Linked DNA regions of Homo sapiens. The protein of the gene in region 3 interacts with the protein of the main gene of each other region in a biochemical or structural test. Each region holds a gene or a part of one and is shown on either strand. Other genes may lie near its edges. The genes, in order: EZR, BRAF, IQGAP1 and PIP5K1C.

The links.
Region 1: the proteins of IQGAP1 (region 3) and EZR form a complex in vitro, tested with the Homo sapiens proteins (one study listed by BioGRID).
Region 2: the proteins of IQGAP1 (region 3) and BRAF form a complex in vitro, tested with the Homo sapiens proteins (2 studies listed by BioGRID and IntAct).
Region 4: the proteins of IQGAP1 (region 3) and PIP5K1C form a complex in vitro, tested with the Homo sapiens proteins (one study listed by IntAct).

What each region holds. Positions count from the first base shown.
Region 1 is NC_000006.12:158,809,123-158,816,368, forward strand, and holds part of EZR (ezrin), read right to left. Parts: intron 1-7,246. UniProt on the Homo sapiens protein: Probably involved in connections of major cytoskeletal structures to the plasma membrane. In epithelial cells, required for the formation of microvilli and membrane ruffles on the apical pole. Along with PLEKHG6, required for normal macropinocytosis.
Region 2 is NC_000007.14:140,774,871-140,782,116, forward strand, and holds part of BRAF (serine/threonine-protein kinase B-raf), read right to left. Parts: intron 6,824-7,246; coding exon 6,706-6,823; intron 3,206-6,705; coding exon 3,121-3,205; intron 2,219-3,120; coding exon 2,042-2,218; intron 1-2,041. UniProt on the Homo sapiens protein: Protein kinase involved in the transduction of mitogenic signals from the cell membrane to the nucleus. Phosphorylates MAP2K1, and thereby activates the MAP kinase signal transduction pathway. Phosphorylates PFKFB2.
Region 3 is NC_000015.10:90,482,214-90,489,459, reverse strand, and holds part of IQGAP1 (ras GTPase-activating-like protein IQGAP1), read right to left. Parts: coding exon 7,179-7,246; intron 6,759-7,178; coding exon of another isoform or gene 6,738-6,758; exon of another isoform or gene 6,711-6,737; intron 6,100-6,710; coding exon 5,867-6,099; intron 5,241-5,866; coding exon 5,108-5,240; intron 3,431-5,107; coding exon 3,328-3,430; intron 2,507-3,327; coding exon 2,371-2,506; intron 1,966-2,370; coding exon 1,878-1,965; intron 1-1,877. UniProt on the Homo sapiens protein: Plays a crucial role in regulating the dynamics and assembly of the actin cytoskeleton.
Region 4 is NC_000019.10:3,641,424-3,648,669, forward strand, and holds part of PIP5K1C (phosphatidylinositol 4-phosphate 5-kinase type-1 gamma), read right to left. Parts: coding exon 7,202-7,246; intron 5,964-7,201; coding exon 5,915-5,963; intron 4,636-5,914; coding exon 4,551-4,635; intron 2,829-4,550; coding exon 2,664-2,828; intron 1,959-2,663; coding exon 1,820-1,958; intron 1,517-1,819; coding exon 1,484-1,516; intron 387-1,483; coding exon 282-386; intron 1-281. UniProt on the Homo sapiens protein: Catalyzes the phosphorylation of phosphatidylinositol 4-phosphate (PtdIns(4)P/PI4P) to form phosphatidylinositol 4,5-bisphosphate (PtdIns(4,5)P2/PIP2), a lipid second messenger that regulates several cellular processes such as signal transduction, vesicle trafficking, actin cytoskeleton dynamics, cell adhesion, and cell motility.

The DNA.
Region 1 (7,246 bases), on a different chromosome or scaffold from region 3:
CTTGCTTTGCTGCCAGAAAAGACAAAAAGCACAAATAAACAAGCACCTGACAGCGTTATAGGTGGAGACCGAGTTCTATGAGTGCAGTAAAGTGGGGCACGGCACAGAGATGGAGCTGTACTTTAGACAGGGTGTTCTGAATCAGGAATGGACTTACAAAACATCTGCAGTCAGAAATTCACATACAGACTATAGTAGATCAAAAGCTCATTTTAAACTATCAATGAGGAAAAAAGCAATTCATTTACATAACATTCTCTTTCCAACTCAAACATCAGGTACAAATTGCTTTCTTTTAGCATATGCCAGAAATCTGTCATTACACAATAGCTTAGCAAGTGTGACACAAGATACTGCCACTTTCTCTACACAAAGACCCACCCAAACACCAGCTTTGTTTAAAACATTACCTCAGCACCACGATGCCTCTCCTCAGTAGTTTCTGAGTCCATGCTCAGAGTCCATGATGTGCTCAACATTGGCTAACAAAACACATTCTGTTCTTTGAGAACAATTTTTTAAAAACTGGAACCAATGGGGTGGATCTGCTTCCAAATATTAGTCCAGCCATAAAATATATACAAGGTTAGAATAAATGCTTAACAATAATTATTTTTATGCTAGAAGCAGGAGTTGGTCCATTTGTTTCTCTAAAGAGCCAGCCAGTAAGTATTTTAGGCTTTGAGGGTCTTACTTGGAGTCCGTTGCATATTGTTGTTTTTAAAATCCTTCAAAAATATAAAAACCATTTTTAGCTGGGAGACCAAATAAAAACAGGCCACAGCCAGACTCGGCCCTAAGATGATAGTTTACCTACCCCATCCTAAAGTAAAAACAATTATTTACAGTATCTGAAATGACAACTGTCCACACAGGCAGTTTAAAATTGATCTCTCAGGCAAAAATGGAAAACAAAATTAGGTTGCAGAAGTGACTTCTAACTTAAAAATATGAGCAAAATCTGATATACTGACTACTAGAGTTTGATCCTCAGGTGATACTGGTTCCTCTCCTATCAATAAAAGGTGGGTCATGGTGAGATATTTTTTATTTTGCTTTTAAGGTTTTGTTTTCAAGTATATTAGATTAAAAGGATAACTTAATGAAGTTTTACATTTCCTTTGAAACAGCATTACTGTTTGCCTGTAAGTGTTAAGAACGGGTTAATGAATAAAGGAAAACAGAACTGACCACTGCTGACTGGGAAGCCCACATCCCTCCACACTTACCCAAAGGATCTTACCAGCCGGGAGGCCCTCCCTGGTCTCCAGGGCACACTTCTCTTCTGTGAAGACCTCTATCATGCACTACACTGCATTGTAATTGCTTACATATCTGCTTTCACTAGGAGACTGAGAACTCCTTAAAGGCAAAACCAATCTTATTTTTATTGTCCCTGCACCAAGCACATAATGGGATATAATAGCGCTTCAAAACATGAAGGTGGTACCCATGTGACTGATAAGGGAATTCCGACTAGAACACACAGAGAGAGGATGGACATGAGACAAAATCAGAGTCCTCCCTTTTACTAAGATAACCCAAACTGTTCATATTGCTTTTTCCTTGAGAAGACCAATGGACAAACTTTACCCGTTTATAGGAACCCAGAGTTTTTACCTAACAGGGTTAAGTTTGAAAAACATTTGCGGGGTAGGGAAACACAAAAGAAACACATAAAGCTTACAGCATCTTAAGATGAGTTGTTTGGATTTCACTGATAAAAACTTTGTCTCCGTTTATCTTATGTAACATTCTTTCCACTTAAAAACTAACTCCCATTTTACGGCTGACGAAATTTAGGTTCACAGATGCTAAATGGCTTCCCCAAATACAGGTAAGCAGTAAATTAGCTATGAAATTCTCTTTATAGCTCTTTGTGGTTTCATTTTGAAAAAAATTATGTGTATTAACTATATCAAGCATTTCAGTCAAAAGTCTCTAAGTCACATTATAGCACAAGGGTTTTGTTTGGTTCTGAAAACTACCCAAGTCTGGAAAAATCTTTTTATGTCAACAGGCATGGATGGTAAATACATCAGAAGGAAAATAATGCAAACTTTGGTCTTTTCAACACACATTTACTGCTGAAATTAAAAACTAATTGGAGTACTTGGGGAGTCTCAAGGTAGTTACTACTGAAATGAAATAAGGGATAATTCAAAATGCATTCACTGACTTTGAAAGCAGACTGAATTTCACTGCTTCAGAATAGAGCTGAAACATCTAACTACCATTAGAAAGCAGACTGAATTTCACTGCTTCAGAATAGAGCTGAAACATCTAACTACCATTAGAAAGCAGGTATATCAAACCACCCTAAGAATCTCCAAATTGTCAAAGAGATATAAAAGTTTAAGTTAAAAAAATTAAGAAAAAAATTATAGTTCACTAAATGATACTGTTTTCCTTTCCCAAACTATAATTATTCAACATTTGTTAGAAATCACATTATCAGCCAGGCATGGTGGCTCACACCTATAATCTCAACATTTTGGAAGGCCAAGGTAGGAGGATAGCTTGAGCTCAGGAATTTGAGACTAGCCGCCTGGGCCACACAGTGAGATCTTGTTTCACAAAAAAATAAAAAATTAGCTGGGTGTGGTAGTGTGTGCCTGTGGTCCCAGTTACCCAGGAGGCTGAGGTGGGAAGATCACTTGAGCCAAGGGTGGGGGCCGGGGCACTGAGGCTGCAGTGAGCTGTGACTGTGCCACTGCACTCCAGCCTGGGTGACAGAGTGAGACCCTGTTTCCAAAAAAAAAAAATTCACATTATTTCATTAACAAAAGAGGCCAGTGTGGAAGGAATAAAAGAGGAACAAGGAATGGGATCTCTTACTTCCCTACCATTTATAGGGAAGGTCTAGCCTCTTTTTTTCTCTTTGAAAACAAAGAGCCAAAATGTGAGAGACCACTGGGCACTGCCAAATGAAGCTGTTACTGGACTCCCTGCAGAGAGAAACTCAAGTCAGAAGAATATTATGTTGAATGGCCTGCCCAAGTATAGGTAAGCAGTAAATTAGCTATGAAATTCTTGTTTTTATGGCTCTTTTTCACAGAGTCATCCTAGCCCCTATTCGAGTCCCAAATACCAATAACAGCACTCCTGGCATTTCAGCCGGACTGTAAGGCGGCTGGGCATCAAGTGACTGCTTTCACCCAAATGGGTGCTCTGAAATCACACTGGGCTTGATTGGGGTGCAGGAGAAAGGAATATATAATAACTGCCCTTTTCCTATTGAATCAGCAGTACCATCTGGAGAGCTTATTTAAAACATAAGCACCCAGCCTGCACCTCACCCTAGAGATGGAAGTCATTAGTTCTTCAAGGGACCCAGGAATCAACAGTCTCCAGACAATTGTGTACACAAAATTTTGAGAACACTGCACTAAATTAACCCTTCCTCTTAACTTTAGGTATGTACGGTGTGTACATATACTAGGGAAAACAAAAAGCTACTGAATTATTTGGATTTAAAAATAACGTAGTTTAAGGAGTCTGGTCCTTTAATATTTTGGGGGGCAGTGGATGTAGTAATGAAAGAAGGCAAGGACTTTTTTCATCAACGATTGTCACAAACTTATTAACATGTAACAACAAATCCAGACTCCCCACCTTCCCCCACACCTGGTCCTTCTCCAGGATTACTTACCTCAGCGATGGCACCACCACACATCCACTTGCGCAAGCCAGAAACGAGAAGTCAGCCTCGACACCACCCTTGGCCCTGCATATCCAACCCATCACCAGGCACTATCAATTCTACCTCCCAAAGAACTCTCAAATGCATCCACTTCTGTTCCCACCACCACCACCTTGGTCCAAGCTATGAGCTCCCTCAATGGTCTACCATAACTACCCTTGCTGTCTCCTGCCTCCTGTGATTTTCCTATTACAGATCACAGTCAACTTTTCAAAAGGCAAATCTGATCATGTCACCTCCCAGTCAAAACCCCAAGTTAAACTAAAAAACACCCAAGAATGGCTTACAAGGCATGGCCTGACCTGTCTTCCTCTCTAGCCACATTGGGCTTCATGTGAAACCCCAAACTCACACTACTTCCTCCCACCACAGGGCCTTTGCACACGTTGTTACCTCTGCCCAGGGAGGTCACGTCCTCAAGGATGCCTTCCTGACCTCCCCTATTTGCACCCCCACCAGCACATACACACTTCATCTACTCTCAGGCCTCATGTACCCCTCTTCAGGCATACTCTCTGAAGCTGCAGTTTTACATTTACTCTGGGATTGCTGTCTGTCCCCGAAACCAGACTGTAAATCCACTGACAGGGACTGTGTCTGTGAACATCCAAATACATTCATTGTGCCTTACAGCGTGATCATGGCAAATCACTCATCCTACCAGCACCTCTCACTGCCACATGGCAAAATGTTAGCTACCTAATTCACCACTGCCCCTCGTGGAGGAGGAGGGGTGGAAACAGATGCTACGCATCCTCCTCAATTGCGAGGGGATTGTGAGGGGGGAGTACATTCAGTAAACTGTCCCTGTTAAAATATTTAATAGAAAAGGTTATGTATTCCCAAAGAGGCAAGGTAATCTCAGAAATTACCTTAAAATTTTGGCACAGTAGAAATGTGAACACACTTTCAGAGTTTTCCTAATGAAAGGTAAACCTGCTTTTGTATTAGAAATGTCTATAACACTTCAGAAATGAACAGGTAAGATGTGTTGGAGCCACTTAAAGGCAGTTCAGCTCTATGGTTCTCATGACAGCTTAAAGAGATCTCAGCCCTGAACACAATCCCCTTTTCCTTCCAGAGCTTAACTACAGCAGTGTTCCTTGCTCACTCCCCATGCCTTCTTTCCACTGGGCAGAAGAAAGCAAGTGTGGGAGAAAGGCGCTCCGCAGTCACCCTAACATGAAGGGGCGGGCAGAGAGGATGCTTCCGGGACCAATGATCTGAGCACCAACTCCTACAACTCTCCCTAGATGGGGCAGACCCACAAGGCCACACAGCACACCATGTCCTGGGGACTGGCCTGAACAGAGGCCAAGGCTCCCTCTGGAACCCCAAATCACCCTCCTTGGACGTCAGCCAGTCACACATGAATAGAGTCCCTAAGCAGCTGTGGGAAAAGCAAAACCAGACAACAAACCACAGCTGTTCCTCCCTGTGGAGTGCTGCCGCGTGCGCCCCCCAGCCCTCAAGCAAGATTCAGCTGAAGTGTTACTTCTCAATACAGTCTGCCAATTTCCCCATCAGATGATTTTCCTTTCCCCATCAGATTTTCCTCTCGACGTTACCTAGGCTCTTTCCCAGTCTGACAGCACTTAGCGGGTTTTCAATTTCAGCATTTACCCCGCATCTTGGCCCAGGTACCAGACACTAAGCTTCCAGAGAACAAGGTCTGCCTCGCCCTCTGTGCAGGTCACTCCGCTTGCTGATGAATAAAGTCTTTTTTTTTTTTTTTTTGAGACAGAGTCTCACTCTGTCGCCAGGCTGGAGTGCAGTGGTGCAATCTCAGCTCACTGCAACCTTCACCTCCCAGGTTCAAGCGATTCTCCTGCCTCAGCCTCCCAAGTAGCTGGGACTACAGGCATCCATACCACGCCCGGCTAATTTTTGTATTTTTAGTAGAGATGGGGTTTCACCATGTTGACCAGGATAGTCTTGATCTCTTGACCTTGTGATCCGCCCACCTCGGCCTCCCAAAGTGCTGGGATTACTGCCATGAGCCACTGTGTACCGCCTCAGTCTTTTAAGTAACTGTTGCTTTTGGGAAACAGTATTAGGAGAAAACACAGGAAATGAGTATTTTCAGTTATACTGTTTTATGAATAAAGTCATCCACTCACTCAGTTCAGGCAAATCAATCAAAAATACTTTGCCCGTTGAATTCAAGGGTTAACAGTTGCAATGAATCAGGTGGAAGGCCAACTACTCAGAGGTATCCATCCTTTAAGTGTGTTTGCCCCTTAATCCAGTTGTTAAACATTAAGCCCAAGAAAACCACCTAACATTCTTCGCTAACATTCTTAACTTAGGCTTGAATAATTAGAATCAATAAACCTTTGTTTAAAGGACACATCCACAGAGCTGTTGGTGGATGTTTCATTTTAACATTTACTAAGGCAGCAAAAAAACCCCAAACCAAACCAAAACTAACTGGATCCTCTCTAACAGCCTTAAGAAATGTCATATTCAAATATGTGCAACCTACGATGCTCTTCTCAGTGATTTGTGGGATGGCTCTAATATAATTTACACACAGAAAGGCTTAGTGTGTTTAACTTATCTCTAAGACCCTCCTCTGCCAAAGAGGGGGCAGGGAGAAATTTCCCATGGCAGACAGGTATGGCTGACCTAAAAGGAAGCCTCTCAAAAAAGGGGTTTTGTTTGTTTTCAGACAACATCTCACTCTGCTGCCCAGGCTGGAATGCAGTGGCTTGATCTTAGTTCACTGCAGCCTTGACCTCCAGGGCTCATCAAGCAATCCTCCCACTTCAGCCTCAGTCAGAGCGCCAGCCACCACACCCAGATAATTTTTCTATTTTTTGTAGAAACAGAGTCTATGTTGGCCAGGCAAGTCTCGAACTCCTGGGCTCATGTGATCTGCCTGCCTCAGCCTCCCAAAGTGCTGGGATTACAGGCTCGTGCCTGTAATCAGGCCACCTCGCCTGGCCTCAAAAAAAGTTTAAAAATTTTAATTGTAGATATTATACAGAATACAGTCTTTCAAAGAGTAACTCTGGCTCTAATACACAAGGTGATGGCTACTGTCTTTCCTTAACAGTTTCACAACTATCTTCACTTTATCAAATGTCAGAAACATCTTTTAAGTTCTGATCTATCATAAAAGACCTCTAAAACAAAATGAAATGAAAACATACCTGCCATAAGAAATAAGAGAGAGAAGGGAGTTCTGACATTGCAACATGGATGAACCTTGAAGACATTATGCTACAGGAAATGAGACTGTCACAAAAGGACAAATGCTATCACGATTCCACCTGCATGAGGTATCTAAAGTTGTCGAATTCATAGAGACAGAAAGTAGAATGGTGGTTGCCAAGGGCTGGTGGTGGGGATGGGGAGGGAGAGTTTAATAGGTACAGAGTTTCAATCTGGGAAGATAAAGTTCTGGAGATGGACCTTGGTGATGGCTATGTAACAATGTAAATGTACTTAATACCTTGAAATGTAAACCTAAAAGTAAGAGGATAAACTGTATATTTTACCAAAATACAAAAAAGAAACCATAAAAATAAATTACCATTC
Region 2 (7,246 bases), on a different chromosome or scaffold from region 3:
AAATCTATCAATAATATGCAGTTGTGTGTAATCATTTTCATTTAACAGTTATGTACTGAGTATGCCAGGTCCCATTCTAGGCATTAGGCATAAAATAATGAAAAAAAGCCCCTGCTCTCATACAGCCTGCATTCTAGTGGGGATAAAAGACAAGAAACAAGTCAGATGGAGCTATGCGTTATAAAGAAAATCAAGCCTATGGGTATAGAGAGTGACAGAGTGACGTGGGGACATGTTAGTTATATAAGGTGAGCAAGGATTTCTATTAAAAGGGGACATATGAACCGAGACACAAGGATATTTGTGGCATGTGTATCCTAAAGAGAATATAACAAACATAAAGGTCCTAAAGAAGGAACACGCTTGGCCTGCTGAAGAAATTGCAAAGAGACCAGTGGTGTGGGAAGAGAATAAGCCTTTGTTTCTCACTGAATGTTCACAATCTTTGCCATGGTTTACTCTTCACAAGATTTTAATTCTTTTTTTTTTTTTTTGAGACGGAATTTTGCTCTTGTTGCCCAGGCTGGAGTGCAATGGTGTGATCTTGGCCCACTGCAACCTCTGCCTCCCGGGTTCAAGTGATTCTTCTGCCTTAGCCTCCCAAGTAGCTGGGATTACAGGCTTGTGCCTGGCTCATTTTGTATTTTTAGTAGAGACGGGGTTTCTCCATGTTGGTCAGGCTAGTCTTGAACTCCCGACCTCAGGTGATCCGCCTGCCTCGGCCTCCCATAGTTCTGGGATTACAAGTGTGAGCCACTGTGCCTGGCCAAGATTTTAATTCTTTAAAAGCCTTTAGATTCGAACAGATTCAGAGATTCTAACTTATCTGAAACGTTGAGATTGTTTCAAGTCTAGGGGTAAGTGGGGGTGTTACTGAATAAGGTAATAATTTGCTGTAATAAGTATTTTGGCCGAATATAGGCTTGTAAACAATCTAAATTATAGATATATTGCCTAGTTTTGAGAAAGAGAAGGTGGTATAGTTGGAAGATCTAAGAGCCAGATCTGGTTTAGAGTCTTGGCTCTATACTTACTTGCTAGGAGCAATACTCAGTTAGAGTTGTAGGTGTTAGTACATATATACCCTTTTACTCTTTTATTCTAATTTTGTAATGTAAAAGTAGCATAGTGGTTATGGGGAAAGAATACTGGATTGGGAGTCAGAAATCCTGAGTTAAACACCTTTGGTGCCACTTATTAAATGTGTGCCCTTAGACAAGGAACTTAAAAGCCTCAATTTCCTTATCTGTAAAAAGAAAAAAGATCTCCTTCATAACATTATAAAGATTAAATGACATAATAATCTATGTAAGTGAAAGCAATTTGTAAAAAACAAAATTCAGATCATATCTATTTTTAAACTTCTCACAGAGCTTTCAAATTCATATTTTACTGAGTTTATAATTTTCACCTAAGTGCTTTCAAAATTTGTTTAATTTTACCTTTTAATTTACCTATTCATTTGCACTTAAGAGTTGCAAAATTTAAAATTTATCCTTCAAAGTCAGTTCCCCATATTAGCTTATGGTAAACTTTATAAAATAACTCCTTAAATTGCATAGCAAAATTCAACAGATAGGAACTCACTCTGAAATCCTCAAAAAGGGTCAGAATGCAGATTTTTCACTTTAACTTTATTAACTGACCATTTTGCAACCAAAAATACGGGCACTCAGAGAAACTGATTTGAAAAAGTAACTAACAACCATTCTGTTTACTTGCACAACTGCTAACAACTTTTTAGCAGGTTTTTGCTGTTTCTATCTTCTGAACCTCTCTTGCTTAGCTCAATCACTGAGTGCTAAGCCTAAGTTTGCAGTCATGTATTTATTATCAAATACTTGATATATGTTCTGAAGGCTGCACTAGACAGAGACATTTATTTTTTAGTATCATATTATTTACCAGCCATTAGTTAGCATCCTTATGTTCCTGGACAGTAATTTAAAATGCAATCCAAAAGAATAGCAGCCAAAACCTTTAAAACATCCTCAATGGTCTTCAAAAATAATTTACAAGACATTTAACGAATGGAACTTACTCCATGCCCTGTGCAGTCTGTCGTGCAATATCTATAAGTTTGATCATCTCAAATTTGGTCTCAATGATATGGAGATGGTGATACAAGCTGGAGCCCTCACACCACTGGGTAACAATAGCCAGTTGTGGCTTTGTGGAATAGCCCATGAAGAGTAGGATATTCACATGTCGTGTTTTCCTGTACAAAGAAATGTGACAGTAAACATTAAATGTCGACAAACTTTAGCAATTCTTACAAAAGAGAACCAAAGTAGTCTGTCGGTAAAATGTTGTCAGAAAAAGCTTTTTTTTTTTTAAAAAAGGCAACAAAAGGATACATTTAGAAGAGACTGGCAATTGCCAAGTCTAACCTCCTACTTTATGCAGAGATATCTTTTTAAATATATCTGACAGGCAACTAGAGGTTGCTTAAATACCTTCAACTATGGGAAGTTCATCACTCAGTTGTAGCTGACTCTCATATCTTTATTTAAGTGGTTCTGGTATTATAAAGTTTCCAAGTGTTGAGACAAAATCATTTTCTTACAACTTTCACCTCTGGCTTGCTTCCCTGGTCTGCTCTCTGGAATAACTTTTTTTTCCGCACTCTGGAATAACTGTGCACTCTCTTGAACATAACAGCCTTCTGTGAACTAAATATCCTCAGTTCTGTTGATTATTTTCCCCCGTTACACCTCTAGAATCTTCCCTATTTAGGTGGTCCTCACTAGGCATATCCTAGTTTGTCAATGTTTCTAAAATTCCAGAGCCCAGGACTAAATACCACCTCTAAATGTATTCTGATAAGCTTAAAACTGGAGAGTATTCTTTTCATAAGTAGAACTATTACTTTATATTATCAGAATACTATACTTCCATTAATTCAGTCTAGGACTAAGTATTCTATCAGCCATACCATATAACATTGCATACTACTTAAAAGAATGTGGTTAAAGACAAAAATATACTCAGACATACTCTGTTTCTACAAATTTATTCATTTTGAGTAAATCTGTAAAGCTAATAGTTGCTACCACTGGGAACCAGGAGCTAATAAAAATAACTTCTTTCTCTGGAAAAGAGTAATTCACACAAGCTCACCTGAGTACTCCTACTTCATTTTTGAAGGCTTGTAACTGCTGAGGTGTAGGTGCTGTCACATTCAACATTTTCACTGCCACATCACCTAAAAGGCAATTGTTACTCCAAGTGTCATTTCAATTTTTAAAATTTAAAAGTATAAAACATTCTTGGGTGTTTTCACTAATTATCATAGCCCTAACTCCATACCATTATTAAATCACAAATAAATTATACTTTAGCTATCTAAACTCCATTTGTTTTCTAAGGCTAAAAATTCAACTAACAATGATATTCCTGTACTAGTATTTCAAAATATCAATCCAAAAAATAGCCAACCTTGTTTGTTCCATGGAAATTTGGTAAAATCAATTAAGTACCCATGGTATTTTCCAAATTATTTGACAATATTAAATTATACTTACTAGGCTTAATATTTATTTACTAACTGAAACTGCAAGTAATGTTGAAACTACAATTACCAGGCCCTATGGAATTTTGCTTAAAAGTAGGAAACTATAAAACTTTTTTATCAGAGTAGTTAACATTTTTTTCAAATTTATGGATTACTTATGATACTTTCAATTAGGAAAATGACTAAAACTGTCACTAAAATTTAAAAAAAACTTCATGTGAGTTAATGGGTGCAGCACACCAGCATGGCACATGTATATATATGTAACTAACCTGCACACTTTGCACATGTACCCTAAAACTTAAAAGTATAATAATAATAAAAAAAGAAAATGATATTTTATTAAAATCATCAAAAAAAAAAAACTTTATGTGAAACAGCTGTAACGTCAACACTGCCAGTAGGTGTTTAAATTGGTACAACTACTTTGTAACATTGTTGGCAGCATTACTAAAACTGGACATATGCATACCCTGTGGTCTCACAATTCTGTCCTAGGTATATATACCCATCAATGGTTACATGTTCACCAAAAGACATACACTAAAAATGTTTACAGCACCAGCATCAATCAAAGCCCCAAACTGGAAACGATCCAATTGCAACAGATGAAAGAAGAAATCATGTTATAGTCACACAATGAAATACTGTAAAGAGAATGAATGACCTCCAACTTCACACAACAATATAGATGAATCTTATAAACAATGTTGAGTGAAAAGGGCCGACACAAAAGAGTACACACTATGCACTTCCTGTTGTAATCACAGTGGTGGTTACCCTTGGGAGAGAGGTGATTGGCTAGAAGAGGACATGGGAGGGTGTTTCTAGAGTGCTAGTAATGTTCTGTTTATTTAATTTTTTTAGAGACAGAGTCTTGCTCTGTCACCTAGGCTGGATGGAGTGCAGTGGTGTGATCATGGCTCACTGCAGCCTTGAACTCCTGGGCTCAAGCCATTCTCCCACCTCAGCCTCCTCAATAGCTGGGAGTACAGGCACATGCCACCATGCCTGGCTAATTTATGTGCACTTTTATACACAGGCTGAGTATCCCTTATCCAAAATGCCTGGGACCAGAAGTGTCTCAAATTTCAAATTTTTTCTGATTTTGGAATATTTTGATTATACTTACCAGTTTAACATCCCTAATCCAAACATATGAAATCCTCCAATAAGCATTTCCTTTGAGCATCATGTCAGCACTCAGAAAGTTTTGGATTTTGGAGCATTTCGGGTTTGGGATTTTGGATTAAAGATACCCAACCTGGCCAGGTGTGCTGCCTCACACCTGTAATCCCAGCACTTTGGAAGGCCAAGGTGGGTGGCTCACCTGAGGTCAGGAGTTTGAGAACAGCCTGGCCAACATGGCAAAACTCGTCTCTACTCAAAATACAAAAATTAGCCAGGGGTGGTGGTACGCGCCTATAATCCTAGCTACTCAGGAGGCTGAGGTAGGAGAACTGCTTGAATCTGGGAGGCAGAGGTTGTAGTGAGTTGAGATTGTGCCACTGCACTCCAGCCTGGGCGACAGAGCGAGACCTTGTCTCAAAACAAAACAAAACAAACAAAAATAAATAAATAAAGATACTCAACCTGTATGTATATTTTAATAAGTTAAATCAACATTGATTTTCCTCAATTATCAAAGTAATACAGTGCTTATTCTACTGTTTGTATCATAAAATACTGTACAGCACTTAAGAAAAGTTTAAAGACATTTTGAAGGTATAAAAAAATTCCCTTAATTATGTCACTCAAAAGTGACATTATATGTTATTAGGCTTTTACATGAATTTAGTGTGAATATTTATGAACACCTGTGAAAAGATAGATTAAGGAGATAAAAACTAAAACACAGTCTTTTTTTTTTTTTTTTTTAAGACAGTCTCGCTGTTATCCAGGTTGGAGTGCAATGGCGGGATCTCGGCTCACTGCAACCTCCACCTCCTAGGTTCAAGCAATTCTCCTGCCTCAGCCTCCTGAGTAGCTGAGATTACAGGCGCCCACCACCAAGCCTGGCTAATTTTTTGTATTTTTAGTAGAGATGAGGTTTCACTATGTTGGCCAAGCTGGTCTCGAACTCCTGACCTTGGGTGATCCACCTGCCTCGGCCTCCCAAAGTGCTGGGATTACAGGCGTGAGCCACTGTGCCTGGCCTAAAATACTGTCATATAAAAAATTATGTTATATATTTCTATGAGCTCCATAATATGGTATCTTACACATACTGCTTTGAAAAATTTCATATACCAAAGACACCTTTCTACATCAATAAATGTACCTCTACCATGCCATTTTAACTCCTATATAATCACATATGATGGTATAAATTTATCCAATTCTCTATTAGTTGGATACATGTTCACTTTCACTTTTCATTGATATTAAACCTTTGATGAAAATACATCCACTACTCTTAATATAATCCAATTTAAAAAGATTTTGTCCAACTAAGAGGCAAATAATGATGTCTATTTTTTGAATTTGCAATTCTTTGATAACTAGTAAGGCTGAACATTTTGTATATGTTTACTGGCCACTTATATTTCTTTGTTAATTTTTTTTTTTTGAGACGGAGTCTCACTGTCACCAGGGTGGAGTGCAGTGGCGTAATCTCAGCTCACTGCAACCTCCGCCTCCTGGGTTCCAGTGATTCTCCTGCCTCAGCCTCCCAAGTAGCTGGGACTACAGGCACGTGCTTCCACACCCAGCTAATTTTTGTATTTTTAGTAGAGATGGGGTTTCACCATGTTGGCCAGTATGGTCTTGATCTCCTGACCTCGTGATCAGCCAGCCTCAGCTTCCCAAAGTGCTGGGATTACAGGCATAAGCCACTGCGCCCAGCCATTAAGTACATTTTTAATATGTTTACTTGTGACTTATAATACAAATAAAATTATCAGCTGAAAGACTCTAAAAGAAAATAAAATCCTTTTGAGGACTAGTTAACCTGGAGGAATTCCCCTTTAAAAATTATTACTGTAATAAAATGGTAGGAGTCCCGACTGCTGTGAACAGTTTTTATTTCCCATAATTTTTGTTAGAAACTTTTGGAGGAGTCCTGAAACTAATCAAAATAGTTTATTGATGCGAACAGTGAATATTTCCTTTGATGATATTTTTTACAAAATAAAAGTTGTTAAACATATCCTATTATGACTTGTCACAATGTCACCACATTACATACTTACCATGCCACTTTCCCTTGTAGACTGTTCCAAATGATCCAGATCCAATTCTTTGTCCCACTGTAATCTGCCCATCAGGAATCTCCCAATCATCACTCGAGTCCCGTCTACCAAGTGTTTTCTTGATAAAAACAGTAAAAAAGTCAAGTCAAGCCAAACAGAAAAAGAAAACCTTATGTTTCACCCTAAGTACATTACCTTATGCCTGAGAGGGATACAGGAAGAGATCCCCTTAAGAAAAATTCTCTGGAAGAATAGTAGTTAAAAGTATGACTCTTAAAATACAAAACTTAAATTTAAGACTGAAGTCAATATTAGGATGGAAAAAATTTATTTTTATTTTTTATTTTATTATACTTTAAGTTCTAGGGTACATGTGCACAACTTGCAGGTTTGTTACTTATGTATACATGTGCCATGTTGGTGTGCTGCACCCATTAACTTGTCATTTACATTAGGTATTTCTCTTAATGCTGTCCCTCTCCCCTCCCCCTACCCCATGACAGGTCCCAGTGTGTGATGTTCCCTGCCCTGTGTCCAAGTG
Region 3 (7,246 bases):
TCCTTACTTGACAAATGAGAACAGAGGTCTATGGCCGGGTGCAGTGGCTCACACCTGTAATCCCAGCACTTTGAGAGGCCACAGTGGGTGGGTCATTTGAGGTCAAGAGTTTGAGACCAGCCTGGCCAACATCGTGAAATCCTGTCTCTACTAAAAATACAAAAATTAGCCAGGTGTGGTGGTTCACACCTGTAGTCCAGCTACTCGGGAGGCTGAGGCAGGAGAATCGCTTGAACCCAGGAGGCGGAGGTTGCAGTGAGCCAAGATCACGCCACTGCAGTCCAGCCTGAGTGAGAGTGAGACTCTGTCTCAAATTAAAAAAAAAAAAAAAAAAGAAACAAGGGTCTTAGATATGACATGACTCATCCAACCCTACAAAATGCCAGGACCCAACCATCTGCCCACCCCACTGGACCTTATCACACACCTATATGACTCAACTACATCTGCTCTAATAGCACTGCTGAATTAATTAACTTTTATTAAATGGTCTTCAACCTTACAGAGGCTCTTTATTCCTTATCTCTGCAGTGACAAATTCCCATCTAGTTTGTGAGTTCTAAATAATTTGGTCTCATGTTTTATTTCTCACTACTCACCTCCACCCACAGCTCCATTCTAGACATGTAGTCTAGTCGCATCATGCTCTTCCCTCCTTTGTACCTTTGTTCACATCGCTCTCCTGCCTCGAATGCCCTCTCTTGTCTTACATGCACACCCAAATCCTTTCCACCTTTATACATCTGGCTCCGGTTCCACTTCTTTTAGGAAGCTTCCTAATGCACTGCTTCACTGGCCTCTTTCCTGAAACTTCTCTTATTTTTCAGTCAGTAACATAGTTAATTTTGAAACAGTTCATCACTGTTTCAGGTATATATGTCACATTTCCCCAACAAGACCATGGGTTCACTGAGTTTAGGAGCCACATTCTGTACTTTTCTTCTATCTACCAAGGCATGTAACAGAATTCAAAATATATAATATTCAATAAATTGCAGTGAACCCTACACATTCATGGTTTCAACCAACCCTGAAACTGTTTGAAAAAAAAATACAACAATACAAAATAATACAAATTTTAAAAATACAGTAACAACTATTTACACAGCATTTATATTGTAGTAGGTATTATAAGTAGTCTAGAGATGATTTAAAGTATATGGGAGAACGTAAGTATATGCAAATACTACAACATTTTATTTATTTATTTATTTATTTATTTATTTATTATTATTTTTTGAGACGGAGTCTCGCTCTGTCGCCCAGGCTGGAGTGCAGTGGTGCGATCTTGGCTCAATGCAGGCTCCGCCTCCTGGGTACATGCCATTCTCCTGCCTCAGCCTCCCAAGTAGCTGGGACTACAGGCATCTACCACCTAGCCTGGCTAATTTTTTGTATTTTTAGTAGAGACGGGGTTTCACGTGTTAGCCAGGATGGTCACAATCTCCTGACCTCGTGAACTACCCACCTCAGCCTCCCAAAGTGCTGGGATTACAGGCATGAGCCACCATGCCCGGCCAAATACTACACCATTTTATATAAGGGACTTCAACATCTATGGATTTTGGTATTGGCCGGGGGTGGGGAGAATGGGTGCTGGAAAGAATCGCCTGTGGATACCAAGGGATGGATATACGGGATGGGCACAATGATTCTGCATGCAAGTGCCAGTGAGCTTCCTGTCCAAAGGACATCACCTGGACTCAGGAAGCAAAAACTTTCTCAGACGAGCCATAACTACCACTGTCCCCCAGTTACATTCATGCTCACCCCTAGGCTACCAACTGTTATTTGTGTCTCCCCTCCTTTCTCTGACATGCGCCTATCGGGAGAGCTTATCTACCAAACAAAGGAGTATGTTAGACCCTAAATTTTACCTGTTCACTGGTGGCTGGTGTTTCTAGGATTTCAGTCAAGGTCTCTCCTGGCTGGAACCGGATGACATCCACAATTAAACGTTTTGTACTGAAACGAGATGGGGGAGGCATTTAAATATTACCAGTGTTCTAGTTCCTCTCAAGTGGACCGAAGCAGCAGCAGCAGCAGCAGCACAAACAGTACCTCACAGAAGTCCCAAGCGGCAGCTGCCAGTACACAGTACTCAAGGCACAAGGCTTATTTACCCAGCCATTCCATAAGTAGGTACGAGGGTTAGGATTTCCAAGATTTACATTTCACTGTAGCATATTAGCAAAATAAGGCAGATAAGTCCTGTACCAAGTACAATATGCGAGGTGATTGGTGACTGGGATTATGACAAGTACGAGAGGTCAGGATGGTCATTTCAGGTAGGACCCAGCAGGTTCCTCTCCAAAGGCCAAGAAACCTTCAGATTACATTCATTTCATTCTTCCTTCTTTTGATACTCACTTCAGTAAGATGGTTCGAGCATCCATTTCTGCATTCTCATCTCCAGGCACGTCGAACTTGTTGGTCAGGGTGAGAGACACTTCCGTCTTAGCCAGTGCCTCCTTATTTGGGTCATTTAAATTGCCAGAGCTTTCCCCTGAAGTTTTGGGAGGGTGGAAAGAGTCAGCGTAATAAAGAGAGGAGATATTGGGGGGAAATAATACAAATATAAGATGATGCAAGTCTAAGATAATACTTGAATCACCTAACACATACAGTGTGACGAGAACAACTTTTACTGAGAAATAAAATGTTATGCCAAATGATAAAGGCAAGGGATCCATAATAACTCCATAAATGTTTGAGAAATCATTTCAACACTACAATATCACAATTCTCTCTGAAAACATTCTTTCTGGCTGGGTGCAGTGGCTCAGTCCTGCAATCCCAGCACTTTGGAAGGCTAAAGGAGGAGGATGGCTTGAGGCCAGGAGTTCGAGACCAGCCTGGGCAACATAGTGAGACTCCATCTCTATTAAAAAAAAAAAAAACAACTCAGGAGGATCACTTGAGCCTAGGAATTTGAGGCTGCAGTGAGCTATGACTGCACCACTGTACTTCAGCCTGGGCAACAGAGGGAGACCCTGTCTCATAACAAACAAACAAAAAAATTCTTTCCTTTAGAGGACTTTTAATTTATGTATCTGCAATTTTTTTAAAAAAACACAAGCTGGCAGTATGTATCTGCGTTTAAAATGATCTTTTCCTCTGACTCCAGTTCCTTATAGATATTGATCACATCTGGGCTTTTGTTGTTGTTGTTGTTTTCTCTCTTATGAAACTATCAGGATCACATCTATTTTATTTCTCAATGTATATCCAGAGTTTGGTATAGTGCAAAAAATAGAGGAGGTGACAATTACAACACTTTTCTGTCACATTCCCTTTTGATCTTCCAGGCAAAAGTTAGAACTCTACCTATCAGGGACTCGATGGTGGGCACCTCGCCGAGGTCGTCCAGCAGTTCGTGGATTGGATCATTGTGCTCCGGAGCAATGGCATCCTGGTGATCCAACAGGAGCTGCAAACACCAATGATCAACTCCATTTATACATTCAACTCTTCAGCCCGTCCCTCCCTAGAATGTCTAACAATGATCTGCACAAAGAGGTTCCAACAAAGTTCCTATATTCAAAGAAACAACAAGCAAATCCTCAGCAAACTAACCCAAATAAACAATATGATATATAAGGCACCACACCAGGCTCTGTTGAATGACTTATGTTATGATATAAGAAGAGGAAATACTGGTATTCTCTTAACCTCATGGCCATAAAGGATTCAAATGTGCCCTGTTTGAGAAAGAACACTGGCTGGGTGCAGTGGCTCACGTCTGTAATTCTAGCATTTTGGGAAGCCAAGGCGGGTGGATCACCTGAGGTCAGGCGTTCAAGACCAGCCTGGACAACATGATGAAACCCTGTCTCTACTAAAAATACAAAAATTAGCTGGGCGTGCTGGTGTGTGCCTGTAATCCCAGCTACTAGGGAGGCTGATGCAGAAGAATTGCTTGAACCCAGTAGGTGGAGGTTGCAGTGAGCCAAGATTGCGCCATTGCACTCCAGCCTGAGTGACAGAGCAAGACTCCATCTCAAAAAAACAAAACAAAACAAACAAACACAAAAAACCCACAAAACACTGAAACTCAAAGTTCAATACCCAAAGTCATCAATGTACCCTACTGCCAGTTCAAATAAGTCACGTGCACGCTTTTACTTAATGTTTCCAGTGTATGACATGATTTAATTCAGAGAAAAGTATACCAAATCAATGTTATAATTATTGTAGGGGCACTCAACAAAGTCTTCAAGGTGCCATTATCCCCAGTGATGCCCTCAGAAATGACAGTAACCTGAAATTTCATTTACATTTTAACATATGCCCTTGTTCCTGTTTTACATGTCCATGTCCCCAGAGGGGAAAAAATGATTTGAAAAATCTGAAGAAACATGGAGCTCCAGCTTCCAAGGGAAAAATCCACTCCAAGGCTACACAGAGAAAGCTAGTATTCTAGATCATGTTAGAAAAATAACGCAGAGAGCTAGGGTAAAAAGAAAGAAGAGTAAAAGCACTATTTTATTAAGGCAATAGATAAATTTAGTGGGATTTTGATTCAGTAGGCCTGGGGCGGTGTCCAGGAAACTTCATTTTTAACTATCAGCCCATAGGATTCTGATGCAGGTGGCCTGGGAAGACCTTTTAGAAACTTAGCAGTAGATACTGTTAAGAATAACAAGCAAAAGGCCAGGCGTGGTGGCTCACGCCTGTAATCCCAGCACTTTTGGGGGCCGAGGTGGGCAGATCATGAGGTCAGGATATCGACACCATGCTGGCTAACACAGTGAAACCCCGTCTCTACCAAAAATTCAAAAAATTTAGCCAGGCACGGTGGCGGGTGCCTGTAGTCCCAGCTACTCGGGAGGCTGAGGCAGGAGAATGGTGTGAACCCAGGAGGTGGAGCTTGCAGTGAGCCGAGATCGCGCCACTGCACTCCAGCCTGGGCAACACAGTGAGACTCTGTCTCAAAAAATAAATAAATAAACAAAAAAGAATAACAAGCAAAAAAAGAGACATCAAGGAGATGCATTGTCAGTTAGATTACAGGAAGGTTAGACACCTGGCTACCAGAGATGATAAGCAGCAGCCAGGGATAATAATTAAGGACAATGAAATTAAGTAATTAAAGAAAAATACTTACAGTGTGGGTGTTGATGATTTCACCAATGGAAATGTAGATTACTGGTTTGGTGAGGGTTACTAAATCAGAGTACTCATCCACATTAAATTTATCCTGAAGCTCTGGGACATCACAAGCAGTTTGGAAAAACCGTCTGAAATAAGCACAGGAGGCAGCCCCCCAAAAAGGGACATACACATGAAGTTGGCAAGAGGACATTTCACAAACCTCTCACACAATGAGTGCAAACAGAAGCCAGTCAACAGTTACTTCAAGAGAAAGTGCTGTGTGTTTGCTGTGCTTGACAACCTTGGGATAGTGGTTCGAATAACTTCTTTCTCCACCTAGTTTGTAGTTTTAGTTTTACCCATAAGAACCATTGCACCATGACTTAAAAGTTTCCAGACACCATTAGGAGAACCAATTCTATCTCTAAGACAGTGCTCTGAAGCACTGAATTCAAAACTAGATGTTAATTTACAAAAATTAAAAGCATTCTCCAATTCTTCTCTGATTACAAGGTAACATGTACTAAATGCATAATCATCATTATTTTTATGTTAACTACTATCTATTTCATAAGTGTTAACTACTATCTATTTCATATGAAAATTCTCTTCAAAGTAAATGGATCATCTTCTGGAATCCTGGGCACATCAAACACGTCTTCTACATATGGCAGTCCGGGGAAAGTGAGAGGTGGTTTTTAATCTTATTTTTCCCCTCAACAATAAAAATACATCCACAGACTCTCTTAAGCACTTGTGCCTTTCCCCTTACCTGAATTTCTGGTAGGACTGGGAAAGATATTCATTAATGATGCTTAAGTGGGCATTATCTCCCAGAAACATCTTATTGGAAGCAGCATGCTGAAGCATTTTTGCAATGGAGCCCAGATTTCGGCGTTGGTCTGTGGTAAGCTGGCCTCCTGCTGACAGGTCAATGATGTCAAAGGCATCAGGAGCAACAATGGCTGGATTCATGTATCGATAATAAAGCAAGTTACCAATAATCTGGAACAGACGAAACAGAAAGATGGGTATTAAAAGACATACCACCAAGGAAGCTATAAATGACTTTGCTAGCAAAGAAAAGCAGAAAATGCAGTCCTATGAGGAAAAAATAAATAAAAAATACATATACACACGCATGCATGCACATATACACACTCTCTCTCATGGCCTGGAACTAAATGAAATATCCCTTTGTTCAATACAGGAAAACAATGAGAACAGAACTGAAAACTACTGCCAGTAGTTAATGAAAGAGCAGATTCAGAAGGTAAAAATGACACACTTAAAGTCTGTTATTAAGTATTTCAGGGCATCTTTTGTTCACATATCATGGTAGCAAATAAGGCTGCTGTCACCCACATGCACTTTGTACTTTCATGTAGATGGGCTTTCCTTATAAAAAGCTAACAAACATAGCTAAATTCCTTAACATGACCCAATCAGCATAGAGTAACCCCACCTCCCAACATTCTCATGCTGCAGACTTCAAAGGCCAAGTTCATGCCTCTGAAATTAAATTCACTTAACACACATCTCTTCCACAGAAGAATTCAGGGGCAGTCACAGCATTTCCCCTAGAGTTTCATTCAGAAGAAATAAAATTAATTCACCTGAACAGAAAGTCTAGAATCGAGGCCTCACTGTAGGAAAGCACAGAACTAGGAGAGAGAAGAAAAAAGCATTCAGATTAAAAAAAAAAAGAAAAGAGAAGAGCATAGCTGAGTAAGAAAGAGTTATCAGCAACAGCCTTAGCAGAAACAACTGTGCCTGCTACTATTCGCCAGGTCACCAGCAGAGGGAACAATACTACAGCGAAAAGATAGGACTCAAAGAAACTCATCTGAAAACAGGAAAAATCCATCTTTCTACTTGTTTGATGTTTGTGTGCCAAACTATAGGAAGTGTTTCATCCTAAGAGAGGTACCATTTACCAATTACAATTGCTTTCAAAAGCTCACAATCAATGGTAAGCTACTGCCAGAACCTACACTTAGGCAGTTAGTAATGATCTATGGTCAGCCCTGGTTTTATTGCTTTGTCCTCAAAGGGCAGGAGTCTGCCGGCTATGAGATTCTTACCTTCAGCAGCTCATCCTCACCAGCATCAGGGAACTTCTCATGCAACGAGTCCTTCAGCACTTTGGCAA
Region 4 (7,246 bases), on a different chromosome or scaffold from region 3:
AGCGTCCCTGGCCTCCACCCACTCCATGCCAGGAGCACCCCCCAGTTCTAACAGTCACAAATGTCCCCAGGCATCGCCCAGTGTCCCCTGGGGGCTAGGATCACCCCGGCTAGTCGAGAACCACTCCCTTCAATCAAAAAATAAACTTATGGGAAAATCCACCATCTGTGAATACAACCTAGTAAGAAAGAACTGCTTCATGATGAAACCTCGGGGTGCTCTTGGCTCCTCTGGGCCCGCAGCAGGTGGGCGCCCCGACCTCCCGCCGAGGCCGTGCTCACCCTGCGTCCTCCTCTTTGGGGACCACAATCTCCACGCTGCACGCAGGCTCCACCTGCACTGTAATCTGCTGCAGATCCTCTTCCGCGGGTGGCTCCTCCTGCGGCCTGCAGGCAATGGGAGGTTGTGCCTCGGTTTCCCTCCTCACTTCCCCCATCCTACCCCCAGGAGTGCCCAGTGAACTCCAGGGCCAGTCCCAGAGGGGAGTTGGGAGCCTCCTGATTGGGTCTGTTCTTTCTGGCTGTCACTCCCAGCCCGGGGACTGTCCACCTGGGTCCCTTGGTGACTGTGGTGCCAGCAGGGCCTGGGGTGTAGCGGGCTCTGGGGGCATATGAGCAAATGGCAGCCCCGACCGGTGTGGGTGCCACAGACCCTGCCCACCCTCCAGGCAGTGCCTGCACCTGGCAGCCGAGGCCCTGACACAAGTGACTCAGTGTCCCGGCCGCCGGGCCTGGCCATGTAACATGTCTCTCCAAATGGCACGCTAGACTGCAGGGAGGGTCACATCCCACCCAGGGCACCAAGGGGTTTCTTTCACCAGGCGGCAGCGATTAAAACACGGTTAAGAAAAGCAACACCGCGCCACTGCCCCAGTGTTCACAAGAGTGAGACCCCAGGGACCTCGCAAATGTCCCCGAGGGCTGGGCACTTAAAGCCAGGTGCAGTCCATGGGATGGAAGGACGGCACGCAGGCGTGACAGGAACGGCGCGCACCCACCCCTGAGATCCCCGTCAGTCGAGTGACAACAGCAAGGTGTGGGCGGCGTGCACGGGTGTGCCCATTTGTGTCAAAATAAAAGGGAACCACAAGCCTGGTGCACGTCTGCTGTGTTCCCAGAAAGTATCTTCCAAGAGACAAAACCCACAGTCCCAGTGGTTGCTCCTGGGGAGGGGACAGGCCGTGGGCAGGAGGGGGCGCATTTCACGATATTCCCTCTTGTATCTTGTTTTAAGTTAAAAAAAAAACTTAATAGAAGAAGAAATAAGGAAGGATCCACAGACCAGAGCTGCCCTGGCTCTGGCTGTAAGAAAAACAAAGTGGCTGGAAGATTGTGTGCGGTGCTAGGGCCGAGTGCTACAATCTTAAATCTGTCCCCAGGAGAGAATGGGCAGAGAGCAGAGGGGCTGGGGGGCGGGAAACGGAGCTGGGAGCTGTGCAGGAGGAGCTGGTGAGACCCAGGGAAGGAAGGGGGTTGGGTCTCACCTGCCATCCTGTCCAGACGACTGTGTGCGCCGCCTGCAGAGATACAGCAAACACGTGACACCCAGAAAGAGAGTGGCCCGCCTGCTCAGTCTACCTGCCTTGCCTACCCGCCTGCCTACCTGCCCCCTGGCAGCCCTGCCCACCTGTACATATGCTCCTCCCTCCCACACATTGGATGCTCCGCCCCCGCGCACCCACATGCAGTGTATGTACATCCACCGTACATACGATGCTCCACCCACATGCACAGCGGATGCCCCGCCCACATGCAGTGAATGCCCCGCCCCCACGCACAGCGGATGCCCCGCCCACATGCACTGCGGATGCCTCGCCCACCTGTACCGCGGCTGCTCCGACGTCTCCGAGGGGGACCGCTCAGGAATGGAGAGGGATGTGGATGACAGAGTCGTGGCAATGGAGGCTGTAGTGGCTTCTTCGAAAGAAGGTGGCGTGCAGGGCAGGAGGTCGGGCCGGCCTGAGGGGAGAGGACTGTGGGCACCTTGCGGAGCCTCCGAGCCCCCAAACACACAGTCGATTCTCCCTGAGGCTTGGCTCACCCTGGGAACCCACAGCCCAGTGCCCGCCCGCCTCCCAGACACTCCCACCTCCCCACACGGCAGGGAAGGACGACGTTCCCCCTCACACAAAGGCTTCTGACCGCTCTCAAAATAGAATCCAGACAGCCCAGAGGGCCCTGTGCAGCCTGGCCCCGTCCCCTCTCCACTCTCCCTCCCCGCTGTCTTCCCCTCCACTGCTCTCTTCCCCTCCCCACCCCCCCTCCCTTCCCCTCCGCGCTGCTTGGCCACACGGGCTCCTTGCTGTTCCCTCAGCAGGTGTGGTCCTGCCCCAGGGCCCTTGCATGGCTATGTCCCTTCCTTCATTCCCTAGCCTGGGGGCTGCATGCCTTCGATGGCATCCTGGTGCACCTCAGATGACAGTGGCCGTGAGAGAAGGCGGGAGCTGTCACCACCCCACCTGGTGGAGCCTTCTATACTCAGCTCCCCCTGGGCTCTTCCCTGGGGCGGTCCCAGCAGCCCCCACTCCCTGGGCAGGCGGCCCTGCAGATCCGGAGGGGGTGGCTGAGCGATGGGCACTCAGGATGAGGCGGCACCCCACCCACGGGGCTGCTGCTGGCACCCCCTGTAGCGCCCACAAGCGCACTCTGCCCTCTGCCCCTCACCTTCGTCCTCCAGCGTGGGGTAGCTGCGGGCCCCCCGCAGGTCGTACTGGGCCTCCTCCCGCTCGCTAGGGATCTGGCTGGCCGAGAAGGCAGCGGTGGGCCCCAGCGGTTTCACAGCTAGCAAGGCTCCGCCGCGCCCCTTCTTGGAGGGCGAGGACTTCAGGGCTGCAGGGAAGGGTGGGGGTTGGTGCTTGGGGTTGCTGGGGGCTCATAGCAAAGCCCAGACAGGGCCGCCGCCCACATATACCCCACGTCCCTGTGGCCCACCAGACCCCTACCGGTCCCTGAGGCCAGGAAGCACCACAACCTCTTGGTGGAAAACCGGGGTCTGCCTGGGGAGGGACTGCGAGCCCGAGTTCCCTGTCCTGCCCACCCGACTGTCTCTATGAGACACACTGGGACCTGGCACAGTGCCTGCCCCTCCTGGGATCCTGCAGACCAGTGACTCCCATCTAATGAGCTGGCCAGGGATGCCTGCAGGCTTCAACCCCTTCTATGTGCGGCCCAGCCCGGGCAGGGCCCCCACTTTCAGATGGACACTGACAGCCTTGGGGAGCACCAGGTGTTGTGGTTAGAGAAGCCTGTGGCTCAGCATGTAGGGCCTGAGCGCAGATCCAGGCTCACCCGCTGGCTGTGCGGCTCGGTCTCTCTGGGCCCTGGGGGCCGACCTTAGCGGTGGGGTGAGGTGGGGCAGGTGATGTCCCGCACAGGGCCAGGCCTGTCCTCAGTGCTGTGTGAGCTCTGCCTCCTCACCAAGCTCTTGTGACCTCTGCCCCCAGAATGACCCACACAGCTCCTGGTAAACAGTAGGTGCTCAGTTTGCCTTGTGCAGCTTCCTACAATCACCAAAGGCTGGCAAACAGCCCTGGATGACGGAATGATCCTGTGGCATCGGTCCCAGAGAGTGGGGTGTGGGGACAGGCTCAACGGCTGGCTCTCTGGAGACAGATCCTGACACGTGGTGTCTGCCAATTCCCACGGTGTTGATGAGAGGGGGTCCCTGACCTCGAGGCCGTGAGCAAGTGTGCAGGCCGGGAAGAGCAGCCTGCCTGCAAGCGCTGGGCACTGGCGTGCCTGTCCCTGCCACCTCCCTGCAACCCCCGTGGGTGCGGACCCGCAGATCATTCATGCCCCCCACCAGACACTTCCCAAGCATCTCTGTGGGCCAGGCCTGTGCAGGATGCTGGGGAGCCCGGGAGCCTTCTGGTGGGGAGGGTGGCTGAGAAACAGACCCCAGGGGGGAATCCATCTGGCAGCAGGTTGGCCACGGGCTGAGGTCTGCACAGGGGCCTGGAACCCAGAGTCTGCGTCCAGATGCTACAGTGGCCCATGAGGGGAAGCTGAGCCCTGAGAGATGGGGACCTCCCCCGGGCACCCTGTGGGTGAATCCCGAGTCCCCACCTTCCCCACCACTGTTTGCCCTGGGACCTTCCCGACCATGCCCTGCTGGGCTAGCCTCCTGCGTTCCCCTGCCCGGGGTGCGTTTCCTTGGCGATGGTGATGCTGTGGGCAGCCCCACACACTGTGAGCTATCTGCTGAGTCAGGCCCACCCATCCCATATATAAACACTGTACCCTCACAGTGCTGTGCCAATGGGGAAACCAAGGCACAGAGGCAGGTGCCTGCTCAAGGCCACATGGGCAGGACGAGGCCAGGCTAGGATTCAGGCTCTGGCGGTGGCTCCAGACCCGTGCTCTACCGCTGTGCAGAGCAAATATCCCGACTACCCTACCTCCGGATGAGGCCCGGTCTGAGGGGGGCACAGGGGCTCTGAGTTTACTGCCCTGCCCAGGGGGCTCTCGGCCTCCCGCAGAGTCCCTCCTGCCCCACGGCGCTCTGGGCCTTCCCCAGGGTCCCTCCCGCCTTGCGGGGCTCAGGTGGCTTACAGGAGTTCTTCCGAAAGACCGTGTTGCTCATGAACTTGAAAAAGCGCTCGGCATAGAAGCTGGGGCGGTGGACGGACACCGTGTCCTGGAAGAGAGTTGGGGGGGGTGCCCGGGGGCAGAGGGTGCATCAATCAACAGCTGGGGACAGCCCCAGACAGACGCTGTATGTGTGTGGGGGGCACCTTCTGTGTGAAAAGGCTCGAGATGGGTCCATGGCGCCATGGCTTCCTGGGAGGGGCTCACGGAACAGGGAACAGTGGCTCCCTCTGGGGAGGGAGACTGGGTGCCAGGGAATGGGTGGAGGCTTTTCCACTAGAGACCTGTTAGCATTTTTGACTTTTTAAACCAGCTGAATAAAGTATTCCGGCCAGGCACAGTGGCCCACGTGGACTTGTAGGGGAGGCTGAGGCAGGATGGCCTGGCTGGGGCCCTGCTGGGATGTGATCTCGGCCTCCCAGAATGCAACCTCCTTTCCCAGCCTCCTTGGGTGAGGAGTGGCCACGTACCAGGACTGTGAACGACTCCACCCCCGCAGGCTGCAGTGGGAGGTGGTGCCCGGCCACTCTGGGCCAGGGGACAAGGACAACCCCAGGGACATGCGGCGGCAGCACAGGACACCCTGGCCAGCCTCGTCAGAGCCGAGACAGCGCTCCTATCTGCCCTGGGCAGCAGGTTCCGGGCCTTGGCAAGGTTTAAGACATCCCCAGAGGCCTCTGCCAGCTGCCATCCTGACCCGCTCAAGGCTTATTCTGGAAGCTCCTGCCTGGACCTTCTACACGCTCTTTTGAAAAATGGGGGTGCCTGTTGGGATCTTGGATTCTACAGGCTGTGGTCACACAGACGTTAGTCCTCAGTGCCTGGCCCCAGGCGGTACTCTGCGTTTGTGGAGTGACGGATGGGAGGAAGGCTGGGACGACAGACAGGAGGACAGAGGGAGGAAGGATGGGAGGAGGGGTGCAGGCACTCACAGAGGGAGGAGGGATGGGAGGAGGGGTGCAGGCGCTCACAGGGAGGAAGGATGGGAGGAGGGTGCAGGCGCTCACAGAGGGAGGAGGGATGGGAGGAGGGGTGCAGGTGCTCACAGAGGGAGGAGGGATGGGAGGAGGGTGCAGGCGCTCACAGAGGGAGGAGGGATGGGGGGAGGGTGCAGGCACTCACAGAGGAGGGATGGGAGGAGGGTGCAGGCACTCACAGAGGAGGGATGGGAGGAGGGTGCAGGCACTCACAGGAGGAGGAGGGATGGGAGGAGGGATGGGAGGAGGGTGCAGGCACTCACAGAGGGAGGAGGGATGGGAGGAGGGTGCAGGCACTCACAGGAGGAGGAGGGATGGGAGGAGGAATGGGAGGAGGGTGCAGGCGCTCACCCCATCGTGGACGAGGGCCTTCCAGGTGTGCTCCAGTTTCTTGATGAACCTGTGGAGAGAGCACCCGGAGTGGCAGCTGACATCAGCCAAGCCCATGCCAGGCCACCTCACTCAGGGGCCACTGTGCACCCCCCAGGACACTGGGCCATGGCCTCAAGCAGTCGTGGCTGTCAAAACTCAGGGTGGCAGGTGCTCCTGGCAGGGAGTGGGTGGAGGCTCTCTGCTCAGTACCCTGCAGGGCCCAGGACGGCCCCACCCCAGAGAACCATCTGGTCCCAATGTCCATAGTACCGAGGGGGTGACTGTTTTTAAACATTCTAGAGCCCCAGCTGAGCACGGTGGCTCACACCTGTAATCCCAGCACTTTGGGAGGCCAAGGCAGGCAGATCACCTGAGATCAGGAGTTCAAGACCAGCCTGGCCAACATGGTGAAACCCCATCTCTACTAAAAATACAAAAATTAGCCGGGCGTGCTGGCGCGTGCCAGTAATCCCAGCTACTGGGGAGGCTGGGGCAGGAGAATAGGGTCGACTCAGAAGGCAGAGGTTGCAGTGAGCCAAGATCGCACCAATGCTCTTCGGCCTGAGTGACAGAGCGAGACTTTGTCTTAAAACAAACAAATGAAAAACCAAAAAACAAATATTCGAGCCCCAAAGTGAGGCCTCAAACCCACTCCTTGGATTTTCTTTTTTCTTTTTTTTTGGGACAGGGTCTTGCTCTGTCACCCAGCCTGGGGTGCAGTACGGCCATCATAGCTCACTGCTGCAGCCCCAGACTCCTGGGCCCAAGGAATCCTCCTGCCTCGGCCTCCCAAGTAGCTGGGACTGCAGGAGCACCACCACGCTCAGCTAATTTTTTGATATTTTGTAGAGATGGGGTCTTGCTATGTTGCCCAGGCTGGTCTCAAACTCCTGGGCTCAAGCAATCCTCCCGCCTCGGCCTCCCACAGTGCTAGATTACAGGTGTGGACCACTACGCCCAACTCACTCTAGATTTTCAAGGCGACCAAACACCTTCCCTTTAGGGCTCAAGAAGGGGCAGCCAAGCAAGAGCTTTCCAGGTTGAGGAAGCCCCGAGAGCTGCTGGTGCGGCTGTTTCCACGGGCAAGCGCCTCTGTGCATGGGTGTCCTGGGGGCGCCCATCCACCTGTGGGACTGCAGACCCAGGCGCCCACCTGTGGGGCTGCAGACCCGGGCGCCCACCTGTGGGGCTGCAGACCCGGGCGCCCACCTGTGGGACTGCAGACCCGGGGCGTCCACCTGTAGGACTGCAGACCCGGGCACCCACCTGTAGGACTGCAGGATGTCGATGATGCCAATGTGCAGCAGCAGC